Linked DNA regions of Homo sapiens. The protein of the gene in region 1 purifies or fractionates together with the protein of each later gene. This does not show direct contact. Each region holds a gene or a part of one and is shown in the gene's direction. Other genes may lie near its edges.

Region 1 (3,500 bases):
TTCCGCAAAAGTGAAACACCTCCAGAAGCCAAAAAGACCGAGCTGGGTCCCCTGAAGGAGGAGGAGAAGCTGATGAAAGAGGGCAGCGAGAAGGAGAAACCCCAGCCCCTGGAGCCCACATCTGCTCTGAGCAATGGGTGCGCCCTCGCCAACCACGCCCCGGCCCTGCCATGCATCAACCCACTCAGCGCCCTGCAGTCCGTCCTGAACAATCACTTGGGCAAAGCCACGGAGCCCTTGCGCTCACCTTCCTGCTCCAGCCCAAGTTCAAGCACAATTTCCATGTTCCACAAGTCGAATCTCAATGTCATGGACAAGCCGGTCTTGAGTCCTGCCTCCACAAGGTCAGCCAGCGTGTCCAGGCGCTACCTGTTTGAGAACAGCGATCAGCCCATTGACCTGACCAAGTCCAAAAGCAAGAAAGCCGAGTCCTCGCAAGCACAATCTTGTATGTCCCCACCTCAGAAGCACGCTCTGTCTGACATCGCCGACATGGTCAAAGTCCTCCCCAAAGCCACCACCCCAAAGCCAGCCTCCTCCTCCAGGGTCCCCCCCATGAAGCTGGAAATGGATGTCAGGCGCTTTGAGGATGTCTCCAGTGAAGTCTCAACTTTGCATAAAAGAAAAGGCCGGCAGTCCAACTGGAATCCTCAGCATCTTCTGATTCTACAAGCCCAGTTTGCCTCGAGCCTCTTCCAGACATCAGAGGGCAAATACCTGCTGTCTGATCTGGGCCCACAAGAGCGTATGCAAATCTCTAAGTTTACGGGACTCTCAATGACCACTATCAGTCACTGGCTGGCCAACGTCAAGTACCAGCTTAGGAAAACGGGCGGGACAAAATTTCTGAAAAACATGGACAAAGGCCACCCCATCTTTTATTGCAGTGACTGTGCCTCCCAGTTCAGAACCCCTTCTACCTACATCAGTCACTTAGAATCTCACCTGGGTTTCCAAATGAAGGACATGACCCGCTTGTCAGTGGACCAGCAAAGCAAGGTGGAGCAAGAGATCTCCCGGGTATCGTCGGCTCAGAGGTCTCCAGAAACAATAGCTGCCGAAGAGGACACAGACTCTAAATTCAAGTGTAAGTTGTGCTGTCGGACATTTGTGAGCAAACATGCGGTAAAACTCCACCTAAGCAAAACGCACAGCAAGTCACCCGAACACCATTCACAGTTTGTAACAGACGTGGATGAAGAATAGCTCTGCAGGTATGGGTTTGCTCTGAGGCATTGCGATTAGCCTGGTGAGGAGCTTTCTTACAGGGAGATGGGTCTGCTTAGAGGCAGCTAGCATCTCCCAATGCCAAGCAGGATAGTAGCTTGCTGGAGTAGGATTTATTTTAATGAAAGACCAGAACATGAAAACTAAGTCCTAATCATTCTCTTAAGTCCTCTAGTTTAGAGCTGGGAACTAGAATAAAACGGGTTTAGAGAGATAAAGTTCACAGATTACTACTGCTTTTTTTAGGCCTTCATCATCCATAATCCTGAATTACCCAAGGCAAGCTCCAGTGTCCAGCCAAGGCTATCTTTCATTTTAATTATTAGATACTAACTTCTGTCACCATTCCATTTCACCACCCCACCTTTCCATAGCAATGCCAATGACTTATAAAGTGACAAAAAGTTGAGCAATGGAAGAAAGATTGGAGAGTGCTAGAAGTAGTTACTATATAGAGATTCCTTAATCAGCTCATGAATAGCTTAAAGTTGTCTTTATGATTGTTACTTGTAATGAATGCTTTTTTGCAGCTTACTTTTAGTAATTGCCACCTTCCACCTCTTCCCTTTGGTTATTTTCTACATTAAGTGTCCTATGAATGAGCATGTGCCCTTAACAGGTTGGTAGAAAAATATTCTTCTTTGCAGAACATTGAGATGAAAAGAAGCTTATTTTCTTCTTTCATCTTTTGGTTTTCTTGTGGATAGACCAGTATTAGAGCCCACCTTTAACAAAGATAGAGGCAATGTGTGCCCTTGAGGTTTCATTTCACATAAAGAAACAAATGGCTTTCTGTACACTTATGTTAATGTGCATGGAGTCCCATAGCTTGAAGATAATGTGCATCATGTGTCATAGAAGTTCCATGCCTTATATAGTCAACCATGCCCAGACCATTTGTGTCATTTTTAGGAAACAGGGCAGAGACCAAGGTCAAATGCTTTGGCAGATTAGTTTCACCAGCCATTTTCAAATGTTGAGGATAAGCAAGGCTGGGTCTTAACCAATCTCTTTCATTTGCCCATTTGTGTTTTCTCTACTTCTTTTTCTCTCCCTTCCAGCATGATGCCCGCATACACTAAGGGCCCTCCTATGTGTTCAGGTGGTCCTCCACCTTCGGCCATTCCCCAAGATGGGAACCCAACCTGAACTAAACCTTCTGTGCTGACCAATCCAGTTGACGTCATGTTAAGTTACGGATTTGCTCCTAGTTAATTAGCTCTTAATTCACGATCGAATATGAAAAACTAATAACATATAATCGCTCACCACACCCTATTGTCAGAGCATTGGTTTACAAATAGAAGACTTTCAGAACAAGCTAGAAAGGTAGGACACTAGGAGAGTTCCAGGTAGAGAGCGGTATTTACATGGCATGGCTTTGGGCTTGCCTCACATCAGACAGAGGGGTTTACTGGGTGTGAAGATGGCCAAGATGAAATAAAAAGTTAAAATATCTGACCTGGGACTTTCCCCTGAGTGAGGCGATCTACGCTTCTGATGGAGAGGAGTCCTCCTATAACTCTAATTGCTATCTAGACCCAAATGAAGACTATCTTTTTGGTTTGCATGTTTTTATCATGATGATTGAATGTGTTATTGGCAGATTCTTCTCATTCTTTCCAAGCATGATTTGTTCAGCTCACGGAATTGAAAGAAAAGCCAAAATGCATCCATTGAATTCACACCTGAGCTTGGGGTTCAACAGCGTCCTATTTATTTGCTGCATAACATTTTAAATCTTAAATAACTTGCCATTATGTTTTCCTGGTTCTTAAAAAAAAAGAGGGGGGGCATACAGAGAATACTTAGAGAGAAGAAAGATATTTCAAATCCAATAGTGGTGGGTTGAAACCATGGTGAAGAGGACAAATAGGTAATATTTATTTGTACTATAACAAAGACCACTTTTCCACCTGTTAGGTTTGTAATCTTTTTTAGAAAATTAATATAATTGCCAAAACACTCTGATATGTAGATAGGGAGAGGTAAGGAAAAGAAAGCTTGATCCATCGTCAGTCAGAATCTGGAGTGTATGATACCTGTTCTAGGGATTCAAAGGTGAACCAATAATTTGGAAAAACATATACAAAAGGTACTTCCAAATCCATTAAATACATAGATAAGATAGCCATTTTGGCACTTCTCTGCATTTGTACAGGATGAGTATATCTAATTTGGACCTCGAAAGCACCGTATTGGTGTTTTCATTATACAAAACCAAAGCTCCATCCTTACAAGCACCATTAGGCTGTGGTTCTGAGAGGATTGCA
Region 2 (3,500 bases), on another chromosome or scaffold:
AAAACATAAATTTCAAAGTGAAACTAGATATGCAGTGATCCTGAAATACACCCAAAAGTGTCCTTCCTCCTCCAGTTTACCTCTTTTTCTGTAGACATCAGTGTTTACAATAAATAAAGCATTTTCTTATTGAATTTTTTTCTTTTTTGTTTAATATTGTGGTGGTACAGACTGATTTTTTTTTAAAAAAGAAAGGCTTGGCATTTCTGCTGTAGTATAAACTGTATAAGCCTTTCAGTGCTATCCTTATAAGATGTTTTAAGTTTGTTAATGCGTTTAAAAAATTAAGTATAGTTTTGCAACAGTTTTCTTTATCTGCCGTCGTTGGGAGTTAAATATCAATGATATGTAAGCTGTGGTACATGTGGGATCAACTCCCCCTTCCCTCACCAGATTCATAGTTTGTTTTGTAATTATATAAAAACATCGACATTTTAGTTCAAAATCATATCTGGAATGTGGGATATAAAACTTTCCTTCCCCGGGCAGGAATTATGGGGGTAAAACTTGAATTTAACTGTGTCTCCACTTGTGTCTGGCAGAGGTCTTGGTATGAAGGGAGCAGAGGTACCAGATCAAGCCAAGACACCTGCTGCGAACCACATGAAGGAAATAAATTAACAAATGAAAGTAAATTAGGTTTATTGTGTCTGCTGGCTTTAACATTTAAACCCTAGAATTCAAGGGGATAATCATTTGTATGCTACAGTTTTTCCTTATGTAGATAACACTAAGCTTTACACAAAATAGTCAGTGAAATCTGGTAGATTGAATTATATTGATCCTAAGGTCTATAGTGAAATACAGCTAAGAATCTCAGTCCACATTAAAGTTATGTAACTTCTAAAAATTTGCAATTAATCTATCACACGAAAGCACCTATATGGACATTTAAAGATCTGTGTATCTTGATGGCATCAAGCCAGCTTTCACATTGATAAACGCTAGGGGCATTTCTCCTGAAATGTTAGGTATATTTTAGTGTCATAACTGAAGATGTAAGCAAATTTAAAATGCTTGCTCTAAATTAAAAGGGTTCTAGCTTAAATGAGCAGCTCCTTTATAGGAAGATTTTTGTCACAGTGGTTTCGCTAAATTTCAGTTATATTAAACAAGAGAATCGCATTTTATGTAGTTGTCCTTTTGAAGCTCTTACTTCAGATCTTTTTACTGATGTTGCCAAATTATTATAGGATAAGACCAATTAGCTTACCTCTTCACCTCTCCCATAAAGCCTTTTTTTTCTTCTGCAATGTTTCTGAAGGATGAAATGTGAACTTTCTCATCTTCTCTTAAACTACTCTAGGTATCAAACTGGTTTGGAAATAAGCGAATCCGGTACAAGAAGAACATAGGTAAATTTCAAGAGGAAGCCAATATTTATGCTGCCAAAACAGCTGTCACTGCTACCAATGTGTCAGCCCATGGAAGCCAAGCTAACTCGCCCTCAACTCCCAACTCGGCTGGTTAGTTTTTTCTTTGATTGGGGGTGGGGGAAGGAATTGTTCTCCATTTTTATACTGGCTGTTCCTACATTGGGATTTTCTTTTAATTTGTTAGGCTTTTGATTGGTTAATTTCTGTATTTGATTGTATTTTTGGATGTTAATGTCACTTTGGGCTCTTTCTTTCATTTCCAAAGAGCAATCTGTTAGACTTTTTACAACGTGGGTTGTCTGGAGGTTTGCATTAATTTGTCTATTAAGTTAAGACCAAAGTAAATTGGTTAGCTTGAAGAGACCTCTAAATTCTCCTCTCAGGGATATCAATAAGTAAGTTAGACATAGTGCTTAGAGATAGTCTATTGGGATTCTGTCATTTGGCCTGTTTTATATAAAGCTTTTATCCTTGTCAGTTTTGCTGTTCCAACAACATAATGTCTGGGTCACTTATTAGCATGCATTCTATGCAGAAATATTTACTCTTCTAGCAAATATCTTATTAGAATGCTTTGGTATGCAAAGCCAGGCTATGAATATTTCTATATATTGTTTATAGTTGTTGTTCTTTATTGTTTTTTGTTGGTCTTCTTTATGATTATCGGTCATGAGCTATGTAATAGGCTTTGTTTCAGGAAATATGCATTATATCACTAATTTAAGAGTTTAGGTCAAAATACTATATTTTGGGGTGTGCCTTGTGTCATCAGTTCAGAATTTCTACATGTGAAAAAATGTAGTTAATAATGCAAAAAATATAACCTTTGTGTTTGTATGCTATGGAAGGCATGTGGTAATTTTTTTTTCCCTTTGGTAAAGGAAAGACAAGTATTTTCTCATTAAATAAGTTTGGTTTGACTTTGATTAGGGTGCACAGCTAAGAAAACTGATGATTCTAACTTAAAAGGTTACCAATTTAAATATGTTTGATCGTAATATGATTACAAACCTAATGTCTAACATTTTTTAGAGTATGTGGTATCTTTGACCACAAAGCTTGTTTGTCCACTAAAATAAGTTTTCTTACAGCGACTCGTTACTGGAGAAATGTAGGGTTCCACAGACTGATGTCTTCTGTGAGCTTCCAGATGCATAAATTTGTTATGATAAGGTCCTCCAAGTCACTGGGCTATACCCAGCACTTCTTTTGTGGCCTTCTTTTATCTAAATGGAATCATGCATGAAGAGTAGCCTGGGCTTTTTCAACATGGATATAATAAAACAATGTAGAATTCAATCCAGTTTTAATTTTCCCAGCACTGCAGGTTAGATTCCTATGAGGAGCATATTTACTTTTTTAGAAATATTTTGTTTTTTTCTTCCTCCATCATGGTGTGATTGACAAGGGATCAAAGCTAACAGGTTCAATAACCAGAGAGAGTTCCATCTTCTCCATCTGGTCAATTATTAAGAATTTCAGACCCAACAACACCAGTTGAACTGTGCTGCTAGGCAGACATTTTCACTTGTCTCTTTGGAAGAAGTACAATTCTGTCAACATTAGCAAAAATGCACTCAACACTCCTGCAAAGGTTATCATAATGCAAAACGATATCAAAATGACTTTTTCCTGTCCCTGGTATATCTGCATCGCAGATGGCTTAGCATGATTTATGACTAGTCCTTAGAAAAGCCCTGTGGACTTTCTTCATTACTAAATTTGTAACTATTTATTCTTTCCTAAAGCCCTTAAAAGAGAAAAATAAGCATTTTAACCCTCTATTCTGTGTTTAAGAAATATGGTTGCCTCTTATGGAATGTCAGACTATGATTACAGTTTTCTAAGGAATTTTTTTCTGGTGGCTTAAACATCATGTGACTATTCTGAGCACAAAGTAAATTATTATGGAAAATTTGAGCTAAGCCTTCCAATTGTGCGTAAGTTGTTGGAAATAATCTGCACAGGAACCCCTTTGTAGTGCTTTTTCTAAAGTAGAGGCAAAAGAAAATACTATTGTATGTGTGCAATAGCATGGAATTTTAAAAGATAAACATTTTAACAGGAAAAGTTATAAATGGGCTTTTCTGTATTTTCTTTTGCTCTTAACCAACCTAAATCATC
Region 3 (3,500 bases), on another chromosome or scaffold:
TACCCAATGTTTTTCTTGTAATATGTGGATTTGTTTAAAAGTATTTAAATTTTTTAATTGCCATGTTACTGACCTTAATGATTTCCAAAATAAAATAGGTATTAAGAGTTGCTTAATTATACTTCTTTAATATAACAACCAGGACATGTATTTTAACTTTGTGTAAATCATCTAGAGTTATTTCCATGTTAGTACATTTTGTGTAGGTATATTTCTGAGTGGGGCATTTACAGTGATAAAGAATTACATAATACCTTAAATTTGGTAAATAATTGACAGATATTTTAAAGTATATTCATAAAGCAGTAAAACCTCTTGTATTATGTTATCTTTAAATTATAATTAAGAAGGTTTTCTATATGGCTGTGTACACATTATCAAAATTGAACTTTTAGCACAAAAAGTTCAACTATTTGTATCAGTTATTTTTGTCAATTATTGGTTATTATGTTGCATTAAAACTATGGTAGTGAATATATTGTATTAAAAAAAAGAAAGGACCAAATGCCATATATTTGGGGTGGAAATTTGAGCCACAGTTGTGTATACTTACTTTTGCAATAGAAATCTATGTCAGATAGCCTAATAGTTTGGAAAACTCTTAAGATGCTAAAATGTCACAGCACAGTCAGGGATATGTATGACATTCAGTAGTATAAACAACAAAGTGTACATGAAACGTCCGTTAACGTTAAGTAATTGGAGTGAGAGTAGGAAAATGCTAATATAAAGGGGCTAGATTCTCTGCCCATTTTACGTCTAACTTAATATTTTCATTTTAACTAATTTTATTTCTCCCATTTTGTGAATGGGCTACAGGACTAAACTAATAACATTAGTTATACAAATCATTCCTATGTAAAATACTTTTGGTGTGAAATTAGAGTGAATAAACTTTTTATTATGATTGGGATTTTTTTCTTTTCGTTTCTGATGCCATCCGTTTAAGAATCAGTGTTCCAGAACAATTGGTATAGCTTTGCATGTTTCTGGCTGGTCGTGACAAATCAGCCACTGTACACTCATAGACAGCAGTACAGTACTTGTCACTGGTGGCCTTTCTGTGACAGAGAGCCTGAAGACTGACGTAAAGCGCAGCCTGTTGTGAACTGTCAAGTGAGTCTGCCAAAAACTCAGCAGACAGAACTAATTGCAGAGAAAAAGGACTTTTGTGCCCTCTTCTCTTTCTTTCCTTTCCTTTTTTTTTTTTTTTAATAAGACAGATATTGTTAAAGTAGCTTGTTTATGTAAGATTTGTCTGTCTCTCCTCTCATTGCCTGGATCCTTTTTTAACTTAAAGTCTTGCACTGCAGGTCGTTGAGGACTTCCACATGGAGATTGGCACAGGACCAGACTCAAGACACACAACTCATAACAGTTGATGAAAAATTGGTAAGGATTTTCTACTACACACTGCTATGGTTCTGCCTTCAGGGTTATTTTTGTACTATAGATATTCAGTATGGTGTTCCAGGTTTTCAGGAAAGTGATTTGAATTTGAATTTCTAGATTATACCTAAATTTTAAGAAGAAATATTTGTCATCAAAAGATAATTTATATTAAGCATTATAAACAAATACAAAACCATATGCAAATATTAATAAATTAAAATTATGAAAGGTTTTCATTTTTGTGGTGTTTATAACTAGCAGAACATTCATTACTTTTTGTAATGAATGTTTTGCTTTTTATTTTCTCAGTTACACTCCTATTTAAGTTGTGAGATACTTGCTAGTACTATCTAAAACTAAATATATTAGGTTTTCTTGGAAGCATGCAACATTTATTATCACTATATGTATATATGTATATGCATACAAACACATACACACACATTTTATTTCTTCATATGTATGAAGAAATAACTAGCAAGCAACTAGCAAACAACTAGCAAGACCAGCAACAAATGAGTAATAATGTTTTGTGAATCAGTAACAAACAGAATTTTGGCAGCCATCACTTATAAAATATTTTAGAGTGTGGTCTGTTACTTTACATGCAACTTTATATTTATGCTTCAATAGCATACATTTTGTAATGTTTCCAAAACTTCTGATAGAAATGAGTAATTGTATATGTGTGCTTTTCATTTTATATCTGGTTTACCATTATCAGTGTTTCTTAACTACCCCCTTTATTATTGTACAGTATTTTATCACTCAACTTTGAGCCTGTAAGCCCAATCTAAGTAATAGGTCACACTTAAATTTCTATTTGCACCATTAAAGATACAGACAAATAAATGTATAAGTAAATAGAGACAGTTTGGAAAATTCACATCTTGTGCTGACTGGTTTTATTTTAAAATTATCTCTTCAGTTTACCTACTGACATTGTCATCATCCTGATCTAGGTTACATCATCTTTCACCTAGATTTCTACAGTAGTCTTTGACCTGATCTCCCTAGACTCTTTAATCCTAATCTGATTAATTTTCCTTAGGATGCCAAAATAGTCTTTGAAATGCTGGTATTGTCACCCTCTTTTCGTCCTTTGGTGCTTCCTGTTGCCCTTAGAGTAAACACTAAAATCCTAACATGGTCTTTGACGTCTTGCCTGATTTAGCTCCTGCCTTCCTCTCTAGGTTTATCTTGTACCACTGTGTTTTACATTCTGTGGTCTAGCCACACCAAGCCTGGAACTTGCTACTCTTTTTCCTGCTTCAAGGCATTTGGAGTTCCTGTTCACTCTACCTGGATGCATTTTAACTAATCCTGAGGACTTCATCCGGTCACCATCTACCTATTCTTCAAATGGTAATCAAACACCACTTGCTTAGTCAAGTATAAAAGAAATGAGGGGCAGGGCATGGTGGCTCATGCCTGTAATCCCAGCACTTTGGGAGGCTGAGGCGGGTGGATCACGAGGTCAGGAGTTCGTGACCAGCTTGACCAACATGGTGATACCCCGTCTCTACTAAAAATACAAAAAATTAGCTGGGCGTGGTGGCGGGTGCCTGTAATCTCAGCTACTCAGGAGGCTGAGGCAGGAGAATCGCTTGAACCTGGGAGGTGGAGGTTGCAGGGAGCCGAGATCGCACCATTACTCTCCAGCCTGGGCAACAAGAGTGAAACTCAGTCTGAAAAACAAAACAAAAGAAATGAGGCAGTTATGTGTGTATGAAGTGAGGATGATTTTCACATCCTGTGTGTTCATTAATGAGAGCACTATTATTTTAATTTTTCCTATGAGCATCTTTTTTTAACTCTCAGGAGGTTGCCTTTTCTATAAAGTTTTCAAATTTTAGAGTTCACTAATAACTCTTCTAAGTTCTCTTCTTTCTAGTTTGAAGAATGAGTGAGTCAGCCAGTAATACATTGCCCTAAACAGAGTGCTATGAAGCATACAAGAGAGGTAGACAGACTGGATTGGTTTGGTATTTTTAATTATATGTCATAAAATCGGTTGCATACTGTTGAATTTTCTTGCCCTACCTAGATTTTCCCCAGCTTTGTTATACCTTTCTTGAAGTAATAGTTGTCCCTCAGTACCTGTAAGG

What was found. The genes of interacting proteins can lie anywhere in the genome.
Region 2: the proteins of TSHZ2 (region 1) and PBX1 purify together in Homo sapiens (affinity purification with mass spectrometry; one large-scale study listed by BioGRID and IntAct). This does not show direct contact.
Region 3: the proteins of TSHZ2 (region 1) and NDUFS4 purify together in Homo sapiens (affinity purification with mass spectrometry; one large-scale study listed by BioGRID and IntAct). This does not show direct contact.

What each region holds. Positions count from the first base shown.
Region 1 is NC_000020.11:53,255,358-53,258,857, forward strand, and holds part of TSHZ2 (teashirt homolog 2), read left to right. Parts: coding exon 1-1,206; 3' UTR 1,207-1,214; intron 1,215-3,500. UniProt on the Homo sapiens protein: Probable transcriptional regulator involved in developmental processes. May act as a transcriptional repressor.
Region 2 is NC_000001.11:164,810,684-164,814,183, forward strand, and holds part of PBX1 (pre-B-cell leukemia transcription factor 1), read left to right. Parts: intron 1-1,306; coding exon 1,307-1,466; intron 1,467-3,500. UniProt on the Homo sapiens protein: Transcription factor which binds the DNA sequence 5'-TGATTGAT-3' as part of a heterodimer with HOX proteins such as HOXA1, HOXA5, HOXB7 and HOXB8. Binds to the DNA sequence 5'-TGATTGAC-3' in complex with a nuclear factor which is not a class I HOX protein.
Region 3 is NC_000005.10:53,602,139-53,605,638, forward strand, and holds part of NDUFS4 (NADH dehydrogenase [ubiquinone] iron-sulfur protein 4, mitochondrial isoform 1 precursor), read left to right. Parts: intron 1-1,313; coding exon 1,314-1,392; intron 1,393-2,585; exon of another isoform or gene 2,586-2,757; intron 2,758-3,500. UniProt on the Homo sapiens protein: Accessory subunit of the mitochondrial membrane respiratory chain NADH dehydrogenase (Complex I), that is believed not to be involved in catalysis. Complex I functions in the transfer of electrons from NADH to the respiratory chain.